3 separate regions of the Homo sapiens genome follow, and all the other regions are linked to region 3. The links come from fine-mapping of genetic effects on gene expression. A gene starts in region 3. Each other region holds a variant in brackets. All regions are shown on one strand. Distances are between the middles of the regions. Region 1 overlaps ATG14 (autophagy related 14). Region 2 overlaps LOC107984708 (a long non-coding RNA gene). Region 3 holds the start of FBXO34 (F-box protein 34).

Region 1 (2,500 bases), 100 kb after region 3:
AAATGTTTACTAGAGTGTAGTGGGAGAAGAACTTTCTTGATGCAGATTTGGTATGTTTTGGTCCATGCTCGTTAACGGTGTCCAGTGTAAGCTTTAAACCAGGAGGTCACCGAGGCTGCTGCAGAGGAGATCATCCCACCTGCACTGCTGCTCGCGATGGGTGGGGACGCCTGGGTGCTCTGACTCTGGGAGACTTCCACAGACTGGGAAGGGATATCACAAAACCGGGGACTAGGCAAGTTCTCCCAGTCTGTGCCCAGGTCGGTTTCTTCATCGCTGACGCGCTCATCTCCGCTCTCATCTGATTCTCCAGCAACTCCGGGATCCACAAATTCCATGGACTCCTCAAGGTCTGCTCGTACTTCAAAGGGCCCTGACCTGTGTGCAGACAATGAGGGTCTCTTTAGGATAACAACCATTCTCAACACCAGAAAATATGCCATCTTCCTGAAGGCCCTCACCTGAGGGGATGAGGGACGCCGCACACCCCATTCATTCCCCAAGTCTATGCAGCACTCCGTGTTGACATATGATTGCGTTTTCCTTTACCCAAATAATCTCCACCCAAGTTATAAATAAAATCATGATACCACACTTTCCCACAAGTCTGCCTACTTCATTGGTGATGACCGTGCATAGGAAAAAAACCTATTCACTGAGATGGCCCATGCTGGTCCTAAGTCTGACTTCCTGTTGTAAAGAACTGCAGTGTCTACGAAGTAAATACACGGCACTCCAATGAGACAATTCTAACAAAAAGCCACTTGATGTATACTCTGGATATTATTTAGTGTAATAAGTAATAAATGGTATACAAAGAAAACTCAGTGGGTTCCTGTACATATTTAAAAATATCACCACAATTTTCTAGGACACATTTCTAGCACAGAATGAGGCACAACTGTTTAGAATATATTCAGAGGCAATGTTGTATATTTCTGCACTGTATTTCAGGAGAAAACAATTTTTATTTCTCAAAGGTCCCTAATAACACCCTCACTGCCAAGTCCAATAACCCTTTCTTAGGCCTCATCCTCTTTGCTGGCACCTCAGCACAGGGAACCGAGTCAGCAAACCTCAGAAGCCTTTCTGCATTTCTTTTTTTTTTTATTTAGACAGAGTCTCGTTCTGTTGCCCAGGCTGGAGTGCAGTGGCGCCATCTTGGCTCCTGCAACCTCCACCGCCCAGGTGCAAGCGATTCTCCTGCCTCAACCTCCTGAGTAGCTGGGATTACAGGCACCTGCCACCATGCCCGGCTAATTTTTGTATTTTTAGTAGAGACGGGGTTTCACCACGTTGGCCAGGCTGGTCTTGAACTCCTGACCTCAAGTGATCCACCCACCCCTGCCTCTCAAAA[C/T]GCTGAGATTACAGTTGTGAGCCACCACGCCCGGCCGCCTTTCTGCTTCTTTTTCCCCTCCCTTTCAAATGCCCCTCAGCTCCTGCTCCAGGGCAGCCAGGCTGCATGTCCTCCCTGTAGGCAGCCACCCCCACCCACTGCCTTCCAGGGAACTGCCCTGCAACCAGCTACAGGGTGGGACCAAGGTGCCGCTCTCTCCCTGCTGCTGCCCCCAAGATAAGCACACGATGCCTTGGTTCATTTAAGGGTTTCACTGATAACGACTTTGGGGAAAATAGGAGAGGTCGAAATAAATAGCAGGCAGAAATGAGAGCCTAGAATCGTATAGCTTGCCATTTCAGCCTATGGTCCCAAATTCTCCACAGCCTTCACAATGATGAATGGCTAGCACTGGCTTCCAACGCACCTCACCAGGTCTGCACCGTTGACTCACTTTTTACAGAAGCAAGCAGCCCTCATTCCTCCCAGACACCTGTGCTTCCCAGATGGATTAAGCAATAATAATAGCTAACATTTATGCTCCAGGGACTGTTTTTAGGGCTTTATTAAATTGGAAGATACGCCATGGGGTTTCCCACTTGGTCTCCAGTGAGCAATTTACATTTTCCAAGAGCCCCTCAGGCCGGGCGCGGTGGCTCACACCTGTAATCCCAGCACTTTGGGAGGCTGCGGCGGGCAGATCACGAGGTCAGGAGATCGAGACCATTGGCTAACACAGTGAAACCCTGTCTCTACTAAAAATACAAAAAATTAGCTGGGTGTGATGGCGGGCACCTGTAGTCCCGGCTACTCAGGAGGCTGAGGCAGGAGAACGGTGTGAACCCCAGAGGCGGAGCTTGCAGTGAGCCGAGATGGCGCCAGTGCACTCTAGCCTGGGCGACAGAGCGAGACTCTGTCTCAAAAAACAAACAAAAAAACAAAGAGCCCCTCAGACTAGGGGTGCTCTCAAGTTTACTAGGCCCCACCCTGCCCAGAAGTCAGTATTTTGCAAGGGTGAAAGGAGTAGGACTTTCTACTGCCCCTTGAATTTCTCTGCCAGCAAACTAATGGCCACTGCAGTTTTTAGCTCTGAGCACCCTCTTCTCAAGTTTCTCCTTGCACTTCATTTCTTTTCTCCCCTTTTTCTTTTCCTTGGCAAACAGT
Region 2 (2,851 bases), 68 kb before region 3:
TCCACTAAGCTAGCTTTGGAACAAAGGTCACTTTCTTTATAACAGGCCTCACTCTTAATTGGACTCAGCAAGTGGTGAGTGACTGAGTCTGTCTTTTGGTTACAAAAGGAGCAAAAGGAATCATTCATTCATTCATTCAAGAAATACTGATAACATAAAGGTTGAGAGTGGAGTTTTAGTTTGTCCACCCTGAGCTATAGTCGTGGAGCTGCTCAAATCTTGTTCTCAAACTTCATCTGTAAGGTGGAGATCATATCAACATCTACTTTATCAGATTGTTGTGAAAATTAGTGTGGAGAGGGTGTGGGCTTGGGCCCCACAGACTGGTTCAAATACCAATCTTGCCACGTTTTAATCTATGTGGCCTTGGGCAGGTGACTTAATCTTTCCTGAGCTTTGGTTTCCTCATCTGGAAAATAAAGATTTTCAACAACAACAATAACAACAATGTCCTTGAATTATTACCAGTAGAAACTCTACGTTGTTTTGTGAGTTAACAGGAGAGTAGAAAGAGAAAAAAAAAGAAGAAAGAAAGAAAGAAAAAGAAAAGAAACTATATGCATTTTAATTAAAATGTTGAAAAATAAAGAGCAAGAAGTTTTGCTGTCAACAATTAGTAAGAATGGCCGGGCACAGTGGTGCATCCCTGTAATCCTAGCACTTTGGGAGGCCAAGGCAGGAGGATCACTTGAGCTCAGGGGTTCAAGACCAGCCCAGGCAACATGGCAAAATGCCATCTCTCTACACACACACACACACACACACACACACACAAACAAACACACACACACAATTAGTATGAATGAAAAATTTTAATGTAATTGATCACAACTATAAACTGGTGGAGTCTATGAAGAAAACAAAACATGTTTCCCATCAGGTGTGGTGGCTCATGCCTATAATCCCGGCACTTTGGGAGCTCAAGGCAGCAGACTGCTTGAGTCAGGAGTTCAAGACCAGTCTGGGCAACATGGCAAAACCTCGTCTCTACCAAAAAAAGTGCAAAAAACTTAGTCAGGCATGTCGGTGTGCATCTATAGTCCCAGCCACTCAGGAGGCTGAAGTGGGAGGATGGCTTGAGCCCAGGAGGTTGAGGGTGGAGAGAGCCATGATTGCACCACTGCACTCCAGCCTGGGTGATAAAGCGAGATCCTGTCT[C/CA]AAAAAAAAAAAAAAAAAAAGATGTTTCCTAATCAGTACCACTTGCTTAAAACATGGATAAGATTTCACTTAATTCACAACATTGTGAGCCATTGCTTTGAATCAGCCTTTTTCCCCACTACATGTTCCTTTTGAGATTTTAACAAAGTAGAACTCATCCAAAGTTTTCTTTATTCATCCATTTATTGCTGCTTTCTTCCACCAATCATCAAAGGCTGTTAATAATTCTTCCCTTAGGAACCATCTGAGAAAGCATAGCAGAAATGCAATAAATATGCTGATTGATATTTTTATTATGTAGATGTTTTACATAGTGACAAATATTTTTATGATGCTGTAAACTCACATAATATGATTAAAAACACTTCTTAATTGAAAATCTCTAAAATTTAAGCTCACACCTCCTAAAACACCTCTGAAAATATGTAAGCACAAAGTTGTTAAATGACAATTATTTAAAAGTTATGTGCACGTGCTGACAAAGCCTGGAACTTACCGTGTGATGTGACACAACTGTATGAACCTTTCTTGTATTTTAATTTCTACTTTGTGTTCTAATAATGGTTTTTGTACAATAAATAATAGCTTAAAAATGACTGCAAATAGCTGAATCTAATTATAAGTCCTCAATGAACGAATTAAATGTTACATTTTCCAGTTATTAAAAAAATATTTTGTTAACATCATTTTCTTTAACATCTGTCCAATTTGTTGTTTTAAACATATTATATATTACAAATCAATCTCTTTTTGTTAGCTATTTTACATTTTCCTATTATAAATAATCCTCTAATTAACATACTTTAAAATGTTGATTTTTGTTGAGGCTGCTTTTTTATATCACTAAAGTATTTCCTCATTTTTAAAGTCTTTATAATGAGGGAGGGGAGTACTGTAATTTTTTAAAAAACTATTTTTAGGCTGGGCATGGTGGGTTACACCTATAATCCCGCAGTTTGGGAGGCCAAGGCGGGAGGATTGCTTGAGCCTCGGAGTTCGAGGCCAGCCTGGCAACATGGCAAAATCCTCTCTCTACAAAAAATACAAAACTTAGCCAGACATGGTGGCATGCACCTGTAGTCCCAGCTACTCAGGAGGCTGAGGTGGGAGGATCACTTGAGTCAGAAAGTTGAGGCTGCAGTGAGCTGTGATCAAGCCACTGCATTCCAGCCTAGGTGATGGGAGTGAGACCCTGTCTCAAAAAACAAACAAACAAAAAATAACAACAAAAAACCAAACAATTTTTAAAAACGGAAAGAAGTAAAAACACCTGGCAAACAATGCAAAATGTATACGTTAGAAAGTGAATCCCCACTTCCCTCCTCACCACTACCATCTCCACCTAACTGTGATCCCTTTCAGGGTGTCCAAGTTTCTGATCATTTTTCAAGAGAGAACCCCAGATGGGGAATTACTGAGTAATAAGGAATCAGATAATTTAGAAATTATAAAAACATTAAAGAAAATCATTGACAACAAAATAGAAAAATTCAAGCTATATATAAATTTATATAAAATAAGAAAAATGGCCAGACGTGGTGGCTCATGCCTGTAATCCCAGCATTTGAGAGGCTGAGGTGGGAGGATCACTTGAGGTCAGGAGTTTGAGACCATCCTGGCCAACATGGTGAAAACCCGTCTCTACAAAAAACACAAAAATTAGGTGTGTTGGCACACGCCTGTAATCTCAGCT
Region 3 (2,843 bases):
CTGCTTCAGCCTCCCAAGTTGCTGGGACTACAGGCGTGCCCTGCCACACCGGGCTAATTTTTGTATTTTTAGTAGAGATAGGGTTTCACCATGTTGGCAAGGCTGGTCTTGATCTCCTGACCTCAAATGATCTGCATGCCTTGGCCTCCCAAAGTGCTTGGATTACAGGCGTGAGCCACCATGCCCAGAAGGAATCAAGAGGTTTTAAGAAGGACAGTGTTTGAGATGAATCTGAAAGGATAAACTGAAGTTTTACAATTTTGAGCTAACTATGACATAAAGAAGCTTCAAATGATCATGATATATTGAGCTAATATTGCTCACATATTAAATCAGACATACAGTTTGATGCCACGGTGTACCATATAACACCCTTCCTTAATTTTTTTTTTCCTTTTTGAGATGTGAGCCACCGTGCCTGGACTTCCCCTCTCCAATTTTTATTAAAAATATGTATATAGATAAAGGTCTAGATGGAGATACTGAGTGGTTATTTCTTGGTGATGAGATTATGGGAAATATTTTTATTTTGTTTTTACGTTTTAATATTTAAGATTTTACACATATATTTTACAACAGTAGTTTTATAATTGGACAAAATTATTTTTGTTAAGGACTGGCTAAAATCAAAGTTGCTGGTTTAAGTGTAACTTGGTACAACCTTTTAAAAATCATTTGGCAGTTTGTATTAGTAACTGTGAAAGTGTTGATAGTCTTTTTCACCTAGTAATTTCACTTTTGGGTATCTTTAAAAATCTACATTCATGAAGATGTTCTATGATTTCTTTATAATGGCAAAAAGTGAATGAAGGAAACAAGTTATGTCCAAAAATAGAGAATTACTGCAGTAAATTTTATGTCCACTTAATGTAATTTTATGCAGCTGTTAAACTGGTTATGAAGCTTATGTGGAAATATGAGGAATGCTTATAAAAGTGAAAAGAGGATGCAAAATCGCGTACAACTACTATTACAGTGTAGTAAAATATATGTGATGGGGCAAAAGGTCTAGAAGAAAATACATTGTCCTCATGTTTTTCAATGTGGTTAATATTATTTTCACAATGAAAACAATAATAAGCTTAAAGATTGGGAATCAAAAGTTCCTCACTGGCCCTCTGATTTGAATATAAAGTGTTAAAAATTTATATCCATCATTAACCAGCCCTTAAGCTTCTACAGACTTTAACAGTTTCGTGTCAGCCTCAACGTTTATCTACTTTCTGACCGGTATCCCTGCCATGATTTTCATAGGAAAGAGAGTCAGAAGGGACCTTTCCAATTTTGTCATTTTACAAATTGAAACTCTGAACCCCAGCCTTCCAAGCTAGCAGCAGAACCAGTATGAGGATCCAGGTCTACTAGGTTATCTAATAGTATCTGAGACCATTTACAGCTTCAGGTCCACCCACGAATATTCATAAACTTGACATGTCTGCTGATTGAACCCTGGCGTCACTACCCTTCTTGGCTGGCCTGGGAGGTTTGATTCCTTTCCCTACAGTCGTGCTCAAACTTTCATTCTCTACCACTTGGGGGCCGCAGACGCGTCATCCAGGTCTCCCTTTTCACTTCCCCCTTCCCGCCCCCAGTGTCCGGCAGGGGGCGCCGTGAAACTCTGGATCCGTGGCCCCTCCCCCGGCCAACCGTCGATTGGGCCGGCGCGTGACGTCACTCCGTTTTAGCCAAACAAATGGGTTTCGGGGCGAGCGTTGGGCGCCGCCGCGCCGCGCTGGGTGCTCGGTCCGACTCAGCGGTGGGGAGTGAGCCAGGCCTCCCGCCACCGCTGCTGCCGCCACCACTGCGTCGGGCTGGTGCAGCCCCGGGCCAGGCCGCGGCCGGGGCAGGAGCGCAGGTGGGTCCGGGCCGAGGTGGGGCGTGGCGCGAGGGCCGCGCGACTGGGGTCCGGCGGCGGCCACCGTGGCCGCTCCCCGCCCCCTACCGCCGCCTGCCTGCGCTCCCGGGGCGCGGGGCGGGTGGGGGTGGGGGCGGGGGCGCCGCCCGCGGGTCCGGGGTAGGGACCCGGCCGCCTGCGCCTCCTCCGGTGCGGCTCTTTCCGCGCGCACGGCCCGGGCGCTGAGCGTCCCCGCGGGCCACGGAGGGTCGGGCGGGTAGGGAGCGGGGTCCTGGGTCCCCGCTGAAGCCGAGGAGATTCACGGATAGGCCGTGAGCTTGCACCGGACCGGCGCTCCCACTTACGGGACCCAGGGCGGTGAGGAAGTCAGCCTCTGGACTGGGGTCGCCTCGCCCCTGTCGCGCCCTCCCGGGCTCGGCCACTCTGCCCTTCCCTGCCCCAGCGCAGGTGAGCTGGCGCTTGTCCTTAACCTTCTTCAACGACGAGGCGGGACGGAGGCTCGGACGCCTCCCCAGCCTCTGGGCTGGCGCAAGTCGACTGCGGTTCGTCCTCAGTCCACGATGAAGTCATAGGGCTGTGGGTCCGTGTGTCTGTGACGTCAGAAGATGGGTCCTGGGATGTCACTGCAGGCCCGGGCGGGGACCTGGGCTCACGGAAGGGCCGGGGGGACCCGCAGGGTAGAAAAAGGAAGTTGTCTTCCACGAACGCTTGGAATCGCAGTGGATTTGAATCGAAAGTTGTTCGGTATCAGCATTTTGCAATTTTAATGTAATAGTTGTCAATTTCTTTAACTTCTTGTCCAGCAAGCGTTGCGAGTACAGCTCAGTATAAGACATTTGATTTAGAAAAACTTAAGTCAGGGTAGGAGGTTTTTTGGAGGGTGTAATGTAAAAAGCCTTTTAGGAAGCTAAATTCGTAGTTTGATAGTTTGCAATCAGAATTACTGAAAAAAAAGAGAACCACTTCTAGTGTTGATAAATCAGTTTGC

What was found.
Region 1: its variant is fine-mapped to the expression of FBXO34 in whole blood (INTERVAL, PIP 0.95).
Region 2: its variant is fine-mapped to the expression of FBXO34 in whole blood (INTERVAL, PIP above 0.99).

The regions. Positions count from the first base shown.
Region 1 is chr14:55,369,548-55,372,047 of GRCh38, forward strand. It overlaps ATG14 (autophagy related 14), which reads right to left. Exons shown (of 10, transcript NM_014924.5): 10 at 1-378. The coding sequence ends at 72. It also overlaps a transcript of FBXO34 not described here. Among named protein-coding and RNA genes, the nearest start is that of ATG14, 41 kb to the right of the region's middle. The variant C/T (reference allele first, on the strand shown) is at 1,358.
Region 2 is chr14:55,201,850-55,204,700 of GRCh38, forward strand. The region is part of intron 1 of LOC107984708 (a long non-coding RNA gene); the gene reads left to right. Among named protein-coding and RNA genes, the nearest start is that of DLGAP5, 12 kb to the left of the region's middle. The variant C/CA (reference allele first, on the strand shown) is at 1,159.
Region 3 is chr14:55,269,683-55,272,525 of GRCh38, forward strand. FBXO34 (F-box protein 34) reads left to right here and starts at 1,739. Exons shown (of 2, transcript NM_017943.4): 1 at 1,739-1,855. FBXO34-AS1 (FBXO34 antisense RNA 1) reads right to left here and starts at 2,396. Exons shown (of 2, transcript NR_184222.1): 1 at 2,200-2,396. RefSeq lists a silencer at 1,791-2,290.